4 linked regions of the Homo sapiens genome follow. The protein of the gene in region 4 interacts with the protein of the main gene of each other region in a biochemical or structural test. Each region holds a gene or a part of one and is shown on either strand. Other genes may lie near its edges.

Region 1 (3,606 bases), on a different chromosome or scaffold from region 4:
TGTTGTCGTCACCAAGGGCAGCTCCACAGCATGTATATTAAGAACACGGGTTCTAGGATCTCTGGATCCCAATCCCACTGCTTAGCTGTGCACCCTTGAACACAACTTACCCTCTCTGAGGCTCTTTCCTCATTTGCAACTTGGAGATAATAATAGTTCTTGATAAGTTTATCTTGAGCATTTTATTTAGATACTGCATGTAAAGCAGTTAGCACTGAGTTTTGGTTTATGGTAAGCACCCTGTAAATGTTAGGATATTAACAGCAACCCATAAAAACAGCGAACTTATCCGTTCTCTGGTAGAAAACATTCCATGTTGACATTTGGGCATGTGGCCAGGAGCCAATTTCTACCGTACACTGGGTTTAGTTGCCATTGACCATTTCCTGGAAATACTTCTGCGTGCTCCTGATGGGAGCCTCTATTTGGCTGTCTCTAAGCCAAAACCATTTGTGACCATCAACTCTGTACTTTAGTTAAACAGGATGGTGGCTGGAGCCACTGGTCCCCGTGGTCATCTTGTTCTGTGACATGTGGTGATGGTGTGATCACAAGGATCCGGCTCTGCAACTCTCCCAGCCCCCAGATGAACGGGAAACCCTGTGAAGGCGAAGCGCGGGAGACCAAAGCCTGCAAGAAAGACGCCTGCCCCAGTAAGTGTGAGGTCCGCTGCAAGGGTGAGCATGGGCAGCAGCTCTGCCCAGCTGGTTGCCTGGCATCTGCAGCCTGCAGTTCAGTGGGTCATAGAGCAGGAAGGTTACCTACTAGAGAAACAAACAGAAGCAAAGTCCTGCAGGCTCAGCAACTTCTTTTAATGAAAAACAAACTCACCCTCTTCCCCAGCATTCTTTCCATGTGTCAGAGAAGCAGAGGTTTCTTGAACGGGCTTAGGAGAGTCTATGACAAGGGAGGGATTTGAAAGTTGATCTTAATTGTTGCCTGTGGTTCATCTTCTTACAGTCAATGGAGGCTGGGGTCCTTGGTCACCATGGGACATCTGTTCTGTCACCTGTGGAGGAGGGGTACAGAAACGTAGTCGTCTCTGCAACAACCCCACACCCCAGTTTGGAGGCAAGGACTGCGTTGGTGATGTAACAGAAAACCAGATCTGCAACAAGCAGGACTGTCCAATTGGTGAGCCACGCAGCCCAGGATGAAACGACCCAGGAGCTTTGCTCTTTTACTGAATGCTGCAGTCAGCATTCGAGGAGATTCCAGCTTGGTTAGTCCTGAGCGATTTGATTGCTCTAAGATGCAGGTGGACAACATAATCCCAACAAGTTATCGGTTCCCTATACCCTATAATATCTTACACTGTGTTAAGTGCCCAGCATGGCAGTATGGCAGCTTAGACCAACCATTTACTGTGACTGTCTCTCTCTCCTTGTCTCAGATGGATGCCTGTCCAATCCCTGCTTTGCCGGCGTGAAGTGTACTAGCTACCCTGATGGCAGCTGGAAATGTGGTGCTTGTCCCCCTGGTTACAGTGGAAATGGCATCCAGTGCACAGATGTTGATGAGGTGAGGAACTGATGGGGCTCCGAGTTTCTGGATCTAGGAAAGCAGCTAACCTGTGCAGTCGCTTCCTTATGGCAGTGACTTCTAAACATGATGCACGCTCTTATTTCCTCCATAGTGCAAAGAAGTGCCTGATGCCTGCTTCAACCACAATGGAGAGCACCGGTGTGAGAACACGGACCCCGGCTACAACTGCCTGCCCTGCCCCCCACGCTTCACCGGCTCACAGCCCTTCGGCCAGGGTGTCGAACATGCCACGGCCAACAAACAGGTACAGTCAACTAGACGAGTAAACCAGAGGACAGGAGAGCTGTCCTTGACCAAAATAACTGGGAGCGGGAGGAATGTAATTTCATACCCTTCACCAAAAAAAAAAGGGCGAGGAGATGAATGTACGGTCTAGTTTTAGAAACGTGATTAGAAAATCCATGGTAAATCCTGCAGGGGAAAAACAGTCTTCCATATTTAAAAATGCTGCTCTGGAATAAGTTGTGAGCAGATGGACTTGTAAACGCCTAGGTGCTGAGCAAATTCAAGAAAAATAAACATAAAGCAAAGTTTGCTTATAGCCTCAGGGAGAATGGGGAGGGACAGAGGTAACCCACACTCTTCCAAATGGAGCCTCTGTCTACTCAGAGATGACAGGGATCTGGATTCTTGTTTCCATGATATCTGAGGATTCTCAAAAGCTCTGTGTAACAGCAGCATGGTGTACCCTCAGGTGTGCAAGCCCCGTAACCCCTGCACGGATGGGACCCACGACTGCAACAAGAACGCCAAGTGCAACTACCTGGGCCACTATAGCGACCCCATGTACCGCTGCGAGTGCAAGCCTGGCTACGCTGGCAATGGCATCATCTGCGGGGAGGACACAGACCTGGATGGCTGGCCCAATGAGAACCTGGTGTGCGTGGCCAATGCGACTTACCACTGCAAAAAGGTAGAGCCAGGTCCTTTGTGTGCCTCCAGAAAGAGGGCCCATCACCTTATCAAAACACAGGCTAAGGAATTTTAAATACTTAAAGTTTGGACATGAAACTGAAAGATTAAATCTCCCAAAGGGAGAGGGGCACTAATTCCTATTAAAATTAAATCACTTGGTGCCAAAAACATGAACAGGGCTAGCTCTTTTTGGGCAACTGTGTTCCATAGTCAACTCTTCTGTCCAAAAAAAAGTTCAGTACTCTATCCAAATACCAGCAAAGCATGACTTGTGTTCACAACATCTATAAAGCCTAGAGCATTTACACAAATTCTGTATGTATATCCCCCAAGAAAAGTTTTATTTTCTTGTCTTCCCATAAAAAAAATATGCTGTTACTGAGCCAAATTCTGTTCTTTTTCTATTTGGAATTCCAGGTACACTCCCTCGTGCATGAGCTCAGCATGAGGAAGGCAACTGAAGCAGTGATATATATCTTCTCTTTCCTAGGATAATTGCCCCAACCTTCCCAACTCAGGGCAGGAAGACTATGACAAGGATGGAATTGGTGATGCCTGTGATGATGACGATGACAATGATAAAATTCCAGATGACAGGGTAAAAACAGTTTTCTATCCCTTTTTCATCTTTTCAGTTCAGCAACAGCCTGAAACACTTTGGGATTCAAGGAAATTACATGGCTATAGCAAAAAATATACCAAATCAATACACAGGATAATTAGAAATTATTCATTGTGTTCCAGTAGTTTAAGGATGTAGATGTTGCCAAGAGAATTTTTAAATGAGGGTTTTGTTTTTCATCAGAACTGTTTTTCTCTGTACTTGAGAAATTATAATGCATAAACAAATGCCACTTTGTTCCCTAGATTCATTTCAAATGTCACATCGAAATTACAGTAAAATTGACTTTGGGCACACTATGAACTGAGATGATGGGATTATATTCTACATCTCACTAACTTCTAACCCACAGGGATCCATTTTTTTAACTATGTCCTTTTAACTTTTGTAGTGATCGTTTTACACTGAGTGATCAATTAGCCTATCCACTAGGTAGAAAGTATTGCTGATTTTCACAGTTTTAGACATATTATGCACATGGTTTGAGGCTTGAGCTGTTTTCAAGGACAACATTGTTAAGTGCT
Region 2 (3,606 bases), on a different chromosome or scaffold from region 4:
CCTTCAGGCAGTCACTCAGGGCCTCAGGTTGCTGGAGGCACAGCCATCTTCAGCTCTGGAGGGCATCTCCATTCCTAGTGTGCTGTATTACAAACAGCTTTTCTTTCTTCCAATGTCTCCAGCTTTCTGGCAGCATAGCTAGCCTCCTGCACACTCAGGCCATAATTGCTTAACTCAAAATGGTGTGATTCAAATTCACCCTCAGAGGCATGCTTGAAGGCATTCAAATTTGAACGCCTCTTTCACCCTTCTCTGATTAGATGTTCTTTTGTACTCACTTCTGCCCTTCCTTTCTTCCTATCTTTGAATAGGTTTTACTAGTTGCATTTGCTTCTTATGTTACCTCTCTATTTAATGATTGATTGATTGATTGAGACAGAGTCTTGCTTTTTCGCCCAGGATGGAGTGCAGTGGCACAATCTCAGCTCACTGCAACCTCTGCCTCCTGCGTTCAAGCGATTCTCATGTCTTGGCCTCCCAAATAGCTGGAATTACAGACATAAGCCACCACACCCGGCTAATTTTTGCATTTTTAGTAAAAACAGGGTTTCACCACGTTGCCCAGGCTGGTCTTGAACTCCTGACCTCAACTGATCCACCTGCCTCGGCCTCCCACCTGTCTCGGCCTCCCAAAGTGCTTACAGGCATGCGCCACCACACCCAGCTGTTATCTCTCACCATTTAGCTAAACTACTGGCAGTCTACGACCACTCCACCCCTTCTCTGCTTCAGGAGATACTTTTCAAAAGTCACTTGTGAGCAAGTGGTAAGCTGTTGCCTTACCTCAGAAAGCAGCTTCTTTTCCCTGCTGTTTTCTTGTGGGGTCTCTCATTCATCTTTCTCCTTTGTAGCTCTTACATTTCCTTCTAGAAATCTTCTCCTCCTTCATGTTTCCTTCTCTCTCCTTGCTGCCTCTCCCACATTTCTCCTCTTCCAGCCTCCATGTAAGTTGCCAGCCTCATTTAATCAACTGTTACTAGCAGCTGCATTTCATTTCCCTTTTATTCTCTACCTTTTCAGCTGACCCAGGTGGGCTGCATTTTCTTTCACTCTGACGTTCTCTTAGACCACTCACTCAGGACTACTCGTTCAACGACAGTCTCTTGTGGAGCAATTTTCCAGACTGCAAACCCTGCTCAATTTCCAAACTCCTGCATCTAGTTTACATCTGTTTGTCTCTGGCAGTAGTTCAAACCCTCCTCCCCCAATGGAAAGCTCTGGCAAGGAGTTTATTGCTCACCCTGGAAAGAGAGAACCACCTCAACAGAGATTGATAGTCTCTAGAGGGGCAAGGTGGGAAAATTATGAGATTTTGGAGTAGGGTGGCCAACTGTCACACTTTGCCCAAGACAGAGGGAATTCCAAGGATATGGGCTTTGCATTTTAAAGCCAGGACAAAAAAATGAAAGATTGTATAAAGAGGATCTTTCCATGCAGGGTCTTGTTTAGGTAAAAATCATGACATAATAGTTTAGGATTAGCATAGTGAGGATTTGGAAGTGAGGAGTTCTAAGATCTTGGGGTATAAACTGTTGATGCTTTCTGTTGAAGCATTGATGGTTCTTTGTTTCAAAAACTCTCTGTAATGAACAATAAAGCAATTTGCCTGGGCAAGAGTCTCCTGGAATTGTAGTTATGTTAATGAGGACAATGGACCAGTAAGGGTATATTATTATAGACAGTAAGCTGTGTGTTTAGGGAGGAGAGAGGTAGGTGATTTCTGTTCTCAGAGTTAACTCCATCCTCTCTTTTCCAAGGTCTGTTTCATATTCAGTGTCCTTAGTTGAAATGCCTAGTTGAAAAAACCAGAGAGTTTTTTCTAATTTTGCAAGAATGTCACAACATCTCCAGTCCCAAGTCCCTGATGTCTCTTCTAGCTTTCATTGCACTTATGAAAATAACAATAATAAAAGCATTATTTTAGAGCCCTAACTATGTGGAGGCCAAACATAAAATCCCTCATGAATATTATTTAATCCTCACAAAAGCCCCACAAAAGAGGTGTTGTTAATTGTTCCTATTTTACAGACAGGAAAACTATGGCTCAAAGAGGCCAAGAAACTTGTCCAAGGTCATATAATCAGAAGTGGCAGAGCCAAGACTCTATTTCGAGTCCATCTGGGCTATTCAGAAATAAAAAGGAGTGAACTACTAATTCATGTTACAACATGGATGAACCTCACAGACATTATGCTAAATGAAAGAAGGCAGACACAAAAGACTGCCTGTTATATGATTCCATTTATATGAAATGTCCAGATAAGGCAAATTTATAAAGAAAGAAAACTGATCAGTGGTTTCTAGGCATAAAGGAGCAAGTGGAGACTAACTGCAGATGGGCCTATGGTTACTTTTGTCATTGACAGAAATGTTCTAACCTGTGATGATGGTTTCAAAATCATGTAATGTTACTAAAAATCATTGAACTGTATGCCTACATACAATGTTTGAAGTTTATGGAATGTAAATTCTTTTTCAATAAAACTTTAAAAATTACAGAGGTCACATTCTAAGCTTTCTGACTGGTACCACCAATGACTAGATGCTGGTTCTTTTAGGTGCCACTCCTAAGGAGAAATGCTAAAGGTTTACTGGGTTCTTATATACTTTTCATGTAAGCATAGGGAATGCCTTAAACTCTTTTAGCCAATCAACCTATGTTGAATATGTTTAATTTAACCAGTGAGAGTTCATTTCTAGCAGTTACTTATTTCTCTAATGCTAACTGTGCATTCTTGATCAGCATTTATATAAACCTAAGTATGTAAGTTACTGACACACGATATTGCACTATACATGCAGAAGTGTCTTCGATTGCTGACATGACAAAATAAACCCAAGTGAACTGTGAAGACTTACCACTTCTGTACATCTGGTATGGCAATGACAGAGCCTTACTGTCCATCTTGCTGTGCTGTCGTTCATCATAAAATTCCCTCATCCTCCCACTCCAACACTCATTGTCTTGGCCAGAATACTTATAAATAATAAAGATATTTGTCTTCAACTCCTCACCAAATCATTGGAGGGATTTTTCTTTTTTCTCTAAATGTAAAAGAAAAAAAATTCTGATACTACAATTAAGAACAATGTAGCCCATAAATTAAAGTGGACAGAAACCAAGCCAACAATGCAAAAGAGCTGAGCAGCCATTGGGTCCCCGTGAGGAGACAGGAGTAGTTTGTCATTGATGGGACCCCTGGCAGCTACAGCCCCTGGGGTACCCTGTGGCGTAAATGCATATTTTTCTCATGAACGTTTGTTAAAACTGATTTATGTTGTTTTGTCTTTGATAAGAACAGATACGGATGCATTATAGTGACTGTGTTCCTTGTAACTTATACAGAGAAATTCGGAATACCAGGAACTTAACTTACATAGACCCTGATGCCCTCAAAGAGCTCCCCCTCCTAAAGTTCCTGTAAGTATTAAATCCTCTCCCATCCTACTTTTCTGGGGGGAGGGGGTCAGATTTAATGCTGTTGTCTCCCAGGAATCTCCCTAGATGATGTGGTCCAGGTTCATTTTAATGGTGTATAGCCTGGGTCGGGGGCAAGGTATCGGGTGAAATGATCCACATTTTTAAAACCTATTCAAAAGTCAGCA
Region 3 (4,185 bases), on a different chromosome or scaffold from region 4:
ACCCTCATGTTGAAAACTCTTCAATACCCCCTTCTCACACTCATCTTCAGAGCTACCATGAGGCAGAGAAGCCTCCGGAATCAGCCCACATGGGGCTGGGTGAATGCCAACACCAAGCAAGGGGAAAGTCACAAATTGACATCCAGCACCTTATTCTCCACCCTTCAGCCCCTCAACTGACTCCTGCTCCACGGCCCGTTCTATTAATATCTAGCATTTAGCACCAGCCTGGACAAAAACCTACTTGGAAAGATGGTACAAGAACCCCACACAACTCCATAGAACTTCGCTGTCTAAAAAAATGCTTTGCCGTATATTATCCCACTTAATCTCCACCACTATGCTGTACATAGGAGCCACAACTCCTAGACAACAAATAAAAATCCTATCACTTTTCAAATCCTAACATTTTCATATGACAAAGCCAGAACTCAAAATCCAGACCTCTAGAGTCCCAGATCAGGAAAGGAAGAAACGCCAAGTCAAAGAGAAGCTTCTTTAGAATAATCTGCTTTTCTGGATTATTCACACCATGGGTCAGCTCCCCACTTGAAGTCAGAACCAAGCTCCAATTTCAGTGAACCACCATCATGCTTTGACCAGGAGATTCTCTCAGAAATGTGGGGTCCCATTGAGTAGGCCTGAAGACAGAGATTGACAGGCCTATGTGAGCCTGGAGGAGTTCTTTTTAGGGGCTGGATAATGTCAAGAACAGAGAACAACTCCAGAGAAGGCACACACGCCTTCAAACCCATCCCCTCATGGGGAGAAAGCAGCCAGGAACTCAGGCCTCAAGTGTTCTAGGTGTGGTCTCCCAAGGAAACGGGCTCACTTAGTTTGGGGAAACCTTCAAACCCTGCACTGAGTCCTATGTAGACTGGGACAGAAGGTGGACAATGTAATCCCCTGAGCCCTCAACCTCCTCCTGGAGAGATGACAAGATTAAGATTTCTCTACCAGAACCCTCAACAGACACATCCCAGAATCTCCCCAAGTGAAATGTGCTCTACCTACCGTCCCTGAGAGCCCAGGGGTGTGAACCCAGAGGGCAGGTGTGGTGGGGAAGGGAGGAGGGAGAAAGAAAAGGGATGGCTGGGAGTTAGAGAAAGGCTCCTATCCAGGACCTGCCTGCAAGGATCCCAGGTATCAGCCAGCCCAACCTAGCCCTTGTTGACTTAGCAGGTGACAGTTTGGGGAAGAAGGGGAGGAGGATGCGGAAGTCACACCTCTCCAGGCTTGGTTCCCATTGGCCCTTGATATCCTTAAAAGGGCCCAGCAATTTCAGCATCCTTATTCCCCAGACCTTCTGCAGATTCTGTGGTTATACTCACTCCTCATCCCAAAGAATGAAATTTACCACTCTCCTCTTCTTGGCAGCTGTAGCAGGGGCCCTGGTCTATGCTGGTGAGTATGGCCTTTCCTCTGCGCCCCACAAGAGTCCTCCCAGTCCAAGGAGCCCCTCACTCCTGCCTTCACCCCTCTCCTCCTCTCTCAGTGCTATTCTGGTTTCCCTGCCTCTGCAAGTGACTCCTCTCCCAGTTCTCCACACGTGGCCTCTGCACCCCACTGGCCAGAGGAACCCAGAACTCTCTGGCCTCTGCCTGCCCTCCCAGCTCATCTCCTCACACACCATTGTTTACCCACTATGCCTCAGCTACACTGGCTTCTCTGGTGTCCCCTGCATGTAGTTGAGCAGGGTGTCCCCTACACGAGGGTGCCCAGGCAAGGAGTGGTAGAAGCTAAAATCTGGCCGACACTCTACTTGCCAAGCAGTGAGCCTGGCCCCTGGCTGTGTCTCTTAGGAGGAAGGGATGCCTTTTTTTTTTTTTTTTTTTTGAGACCGAGTCTCCCTCTGTTGCCCAGGCTGGAGTGCAGTGGCACGATCTCTGCTCACTGCAACATCCACCTCCTGGGTTCCAGCGATTATCTTGCCTCAGCCTCCTGGGTAGCTGGGACTACAGGCTCATGCCACCTTGCCCAGCTAATTTTGTATTTTTAGTAGAGACGGTGTTTCACCATGTTGGCCAGGTTGGTCTCGAACTCCTGACCTCAGGTGATCCGACTGCCTTGGCCTCCCAAAGTGTTGGAATTACAGGCGTGAGCCACCGTGCCCTGCTGGGATGCCTTTTTTGATCCACAGAAGCACTATTTGGGCCATGATGATCCTGCTGTTCCTTGAACATCAGGATCTTCCTTCTTGTCCTTTCCTCGTCTAGAATGCTTTCCCTCTCCCTGGCCCCTTCCCCCAACCAACTCTAATGTCACCTGGCCAATGATTTTTCATCTAGAAAATCTCAGTTTACATATAATTCCCCAAAAAGGCCTTCCATGCACATGCGGAACAAATCAGATCCATGTGCCCTTCTCGCACCAGGCTGCACGTTCCCTTCCAGCACTGTCACACCAGCCATTAAATAATTTCGTAAAAGGACAGATGTAAGCTCTGTCAGGGCAGGGGTCTTGTCTGCCCTCTTCAGCACTGCACCTCCATCTCTTGGCACAGAGCTTTGCATAAATGTTGTGTTGAAAGAATAAAGGGAATCAAGGCTGGGGTCTCAATCCTGCAAATCGCTCAAATATGGCCCCATAACCCCCACATACTGTCCTCCTCCACCACAGAGGAGGTTGAGCCCCTCTGACCATGGCCAGCTCCATGACAGACACCTCAGGGAAGCCTACCAAGCCAGGGGCCAGTCAGGAGGAAGGCACTGTTCCAAGAGACATTACACTTCTCAGAGGGGAAGTTATTTCAAAAGCCACAGGAGTTAAACATCAGAGAGTGCCCCAGTAGACCCGCTGATATGGTGGAAGGGCATGTCCAACCCAAAGGGAAATTGATCCCCTTCTATCCATGAGCATTCCCAGGAGATAAGCTTTGGGAATGGGAGGGGAGGGTGGCTCGAGTAGGTCCGGTTCGGTCCTTGCTCTCATCTGGCATGTTTCCCCCATTGCAGAAGATGCCTCCTCTGACTCGACGGGTGCTGATCCTGCCCAGGAAGCTGGGACCTGTGAGTCCTCCTCTCCCTGCTGCCCTAGCCCTCGTTGGGAAGGTTTAACAGTTAGGGATGTGAGTGGTGGCTGGGAGAAGAAGCCAGTGGGAGGAGATCTGGATTCTGTGCTTGGTGGTAATGGGGAGGGGCAGGTAATATAATAAAGAAGGTGGCATGGGTTGAAATGGTACAAGGCTAAGGACAAAAGAGGATGACCCAGAGAGGCAAGGACAATAGGGAGCATGGGGAAAAGGTTATTGTGAATAAAAGGGAGAGAAACATGAGGTTAAGTGGTAAGGGCAATGTCTCACATGGCATTAATACCTTCACCTGCAAACACCTCCCATTACTCCCAATTCCTTAGCAAGATAACCATTATCTGGCCTCTAACCTCATTTTCCAACCCCATTTTCCATGACTCTCTTTTATGTCGCACCCACATCAGCTAAATTGAACTTGTTTCCATTCCCCACACATGCCTTCGCCTGACCTCTTACTCACTGCCTGCCCCCAGGGAAGCCCCTTTGGTACATCCTCTCCTGCTAACATCCTGCCTTCAAGATCCAGCTTCTCTATGAAGTGCTCCCCGATTCTCACCATCCCCTAGTCCAAATCCTTCCCCAACCCTGCCCGCTGCATTCCAAGAGACACACAGCATGCAGAAATGCTATCTCCCTTAAGGGGGCAGCGTTTAAGCCATATCACTTCTGTATCCTGGCACCCAGCACACATTAGGTATCCTGGGGCCCTGCAACCCATTCCAAAAGAAACAAACACTTTCACTTTGCTAAAATCCATCAATTTGTGCATTCACAGCTAAGCCTAATGAAGAGATCTCAGGTCCAGCAGAACCAGCTTCACCCCCAGAGACAACCACAACAGCCCAGGAGACTTCGGCGGCAGCAGTTCAGGGGACAGCCAAGGTCACCTCAAGCAGGCAGGAACTAAACCCCCTGAGTAAGTCTCTGTCTCTATGCCAGATCAACAACCTAGAAAAGTCTCTGGCTGCAGGCCCACATCACACCTCCACGCACAGAGATAAGCCTGGTGAGAAGCAGGTAGACTCAAACAGCTGAACACAAAGGCACAAATGGGATTGTGCATTGCACCCACACACAACGTTTTCACAATAGTAGATGTTGCAGCCTGCACAATACATGGTTTCTGTCCTGGCTCACACAACTTCCTATGAGAG
Region 4 (2,810 bases):
AAGCAAGATTCAGTGATTCTGTAAGGAGGTAGTCACTGGTATTGTGTTAGGTATTAAGGGGCATATGTGCTTAAACAGAGAAATATGTCTAAAATATTTAAATTCTAATATAAAAAAGAAAGTGACTGTATTATTTAGGGCTGCATTTTAGTTGTAAGAAAAAAGTCCAACTCAAGCAAAAATGGCCCACACAATGGAACAGTCCCAGGACCCACCGGCTTCAGGGGCTGCTCCAGCAATGGCGCCCGGACTCCCTCTTGCTCCGCGTGCCTTCCCATGCACTGGCTTCGTGCTTCAGCGGGGTCTCTGCTGATGGTGCCATTGATGACTGACCTCCATGAGCTTGCTTTACCCCCTGCCAGCTTAAGAACAGTAGTGAAAGAGAACATGTGTGTCCTCCCATTTCCAGTAAAAACTTCAGGCAGGAGCCTCACTGGCTCAGCTTGGTCCCGTTTCCATCTCCCATGCCATCTCCGGCCAGGTGACAGGCTACCATGTCACTGCCTAGGGAAGTTTAGGAAGAGAGTGGCAAAGTGGTGCATTAGAAAGAACATGGCCAGGTCACCCCACCTCCTGGGCGGCAGGCCCAACTCCACCAGTGGTCCACTGTGTGACTTCCCTGCTCCCTCTAAGCAAGTCACTCCTCTCCTCTGGGTCTCTGTTTCCTTACCTATAAAATGAGAACGTTTCTTCATGTGATCTCAAGTCCCTTTTAAAATCGCTAGGATTCTTTGAAAACCTTTTCTATCATCTAGTGCAGAGAACTTGTTGAGGAAGTTGGGATTGGAATGAGCCTCAGCAGATGGGCAAGGTTTGAATAGGAAGAGAAGAGACATTTCAGGAGAAAGAAACAACATAGAGAGACAGATGTAGGTATAAGATATGGTAATAAGCCAAAATGTATTAAGAGTTATAAATGCATGAAATCATCATCAAAGCTTGCTTAGTGATTAACTGCTTATATTTTGCCAGTGCATATGATGTGACATTTTTCTTTAACTCAAACACTAAATTACGATGTCCTCAGGTTATCATAAACCCCATTTGACTTCATGCCTCTACTCTCTCAGGGCTGGCGCTGTGACAACTGCCGCAGACCTGGGGGTGAACCCAGTCCCGAAGGCACTACTGGCCAGTCCTACAACCAGTATTCTCAGAGATACCATCAGAGAACAAACACTGTAAGTGCATTAGCAGCACAAGTGTGTTCCCTCATACTAGACAGTCTCTTTCTACAGGTATCTTTCTTCAGAATGAACCAAGTGTTTTAATTAATTAAAAAAAAAAACAACTCATAAATGACTTAAGTGAAACACTGTATTCCATAATATAGTTTAAGTTATAATTTATGTAACTCTTGAACATCTCCTATTGCCCAGTATGCTGCTAGGTTCTTGAAACTAGGAAGAAATATTATCCTATCTATAAGCAGCTGTCATGAGTCCCCACCTCCCCGCATTTTTTTTTCTGTACACTTTACAGTATTTGCCACTAATTTTTTTTTCCTTCTTCCTTTTTAACAGAATGTTAATTGCCCAATTGAGTGCTTCATGCCTTTAGATGTACAGGCTGACAGAGAAGATTCCCGAGAGTAAATCATCTTTCCAATCCAGAGGAACAAGCATGTCTCTCTGCCAAGATCCATCTAAACTGGAGTGATGTTAGCAGACCCAGCTTAGAGTTCTTCTTTCTTTCTTAAGCCCTTTGCTCTGGAGGAAGTTCTCCAGCTTCAGCTCAACTCACAGCTTCTCCAAGCATCACCCTGGGAGTTTCCTGAGGGTTTTCTCATAAATGAGGGCTGCACATTGCCTGTTCTGCTTCGAAGTATTCAATACCGCTCAGTATTTTAAATGAAGTGATTCTAAGATTTGGTTTGGGATCAATAGGAAAGCATATGCAGCCAACCAAGATGCAAATGTTTTGAAATGATATGACCAAAATTTTAAGTAGGAAAGTCACCCAAACACTTCTGCTTTCACTTAAGTGTCTGGCCCGCAATACTGTAGGAACAAGCATGATCTTGTTACTGTGATATTTTAAATATCCACAGTACTCACTTTTTCCAAATGATCCTAGTAATTGCCTAGAAATATCTTTCTCTTACCTGTTATTTATCAATTTTTCCCAGTATTTTTATACGGAAAAAATTGTATTGAAAACACTTAGTATGCAGTTGATAAGAGGAATTTGGTATAATTATGGTGGGTGATTATTTTTTATACTGTATGTGCCAAAGCTTTACTACTGTGGAAAGACAACTGTTTTAATAAAAGATTTACATTCCACAACTTGAAGTTCATCTATTTGATATAAGACACCTTCGGGGGAAATAATTCCTGTGAATATTCTTTTTCAATTCAGCAAACATTTGAAAATCTATGATGTGCAAGTCTAATTGTTGATTTCAGTACAAGATTTTCTAAATCAGTTGCTACAAAAACTGATTGGTTTTTGTCACTTCATCTCTTCACTAATGGAGATAGCTTTACACTTTCTGCTTTAATAGATTTAAGTGGACCCCAATATTTATTAAAATTGCTAGTTTACCGTTCAGAAGTATAATAGAAATAATCTTTAGTTGCTCTTTTCTAACCATTGTAATTCTTCCCTTCTTCCCTCCACCTTTCCTTCATTGAATAAACCTCTGTTCAAAGAGATTGCCTGCAAGGGAAATAAAAATGACTAAGATATTAAAAGTATTTGAATAGTATAATATGGAGGAGTTTTATCTTAGGGAAACCCCATGGTATGATAACCCCCATCTAACATGTCTTACTTTGGGTCAGCTGACACTTTTGGCATGGCTTGAT

What was found. The genes of interacting proteins can lie anywhere in the genome.
Region 1: the proteins of FN1 (region 4) and THBS1 form a complex in vitro, tested with the Homo sapiens proteins (one study listed by BioGRID).
Region 2: the proteins of FN1 (region 4) and TSHR form a complex in vitro, tested with the Homo sapiens proteins (one study listed by BioGRID).
Region 3: the proteins of FN1 (region 4) and LACRT form a complex in vitro, tested with the Homo sapiens proteins (one study listed by BioGRID).

The regions. Positions count from the first base shown.
Region 1 is NC_000015.10:39,587,566-39,591,171, forward strand, and holds part of THBS1 (thrombospondin-1 precursor), read left to right. Parts: intron 1-476; coding exon 477-653; intron 654-960; coding exon 961-1,134; intron 1,135-1,393; coding exon 1,394-1,521; intron 1,522-1,636; coding exon 1,637-1,789; intron 1,790-2,239; coding exon 2,240-2,458; intron 2,459-2,950; coding exon 2,951-3,058; intron 3,059-3,606. UniProt on the Homo sapiens protein: Adhesive glycoprotein that mediates cell-to-cell and cell-to-matrix interactions.
Region 2 is NC_000014.9:81,084,608-81,088,213, forward strand, and holds part of TSHR (thyrotropin receptor isoform 1 precursor), read left to right. Parts: exon of another isoform or gene 1-3,308; coding exon of another isoform or gene 3,309-3,346; coding exon 3,347-3,421; exon of another isoform or gene 3,422-3,606. UniProt on the Homo sapiens protein: Receptor for the thyroid-stimulating hormone (TSH) or thyrotropin. Also acts as a receptor for the heterodimeric glycoprotein hormone (GPHA2:GPHB5) or thyrostimulin. The activity of this receptor is mediated by G proteins which activate adenylate cyclase.
Region 3 is NC_000012.12:54,632,003-54,636,187, reverse strand, and holds the start of LACRT (extracellular glycoprotein lacritin precursor), read left to right. Parts: upstream 1-1,292; 5' UTR 1,293-1,346; coding exon 1,347-1,404; intron 1,405-2,954; coding exon 2,955-3,008; intron 3,009-3,806; coding exon 3,807-3,947; intron 3,948-4,185. UniProt on the Homo sapiens protein: Modulates secretion by lacrimal acinar cells.
Region 4 is NC_000002.12:215,360,340-215,363,149, reverse strand, and holds the end of FN1 (fibronectin isoform 1 precursor), read left to right. Parts: exon of another isoform or gene 1-497; coding exon of another isoform or gene 498-504; intron 505-1,070; coding exon 1,071-1,181; intron 1,182-1,523; coding exon 1,524-1,595; 3' UTR 1,596-2,285; downstream 2,286-2,810. Other genes in the region: bifunctional purine biosynthesis protein ATIC, read right to left, coding at 498-504. UniProt on the Homo sapiens protein: Fibronectins bind cell surfaces and various compounds including collagen, fibrin, heparin, DNA, and actin. Fibronectins are involved in cell adhesion, cell motility, opsonization, wound healing, and maintenance of cell shape.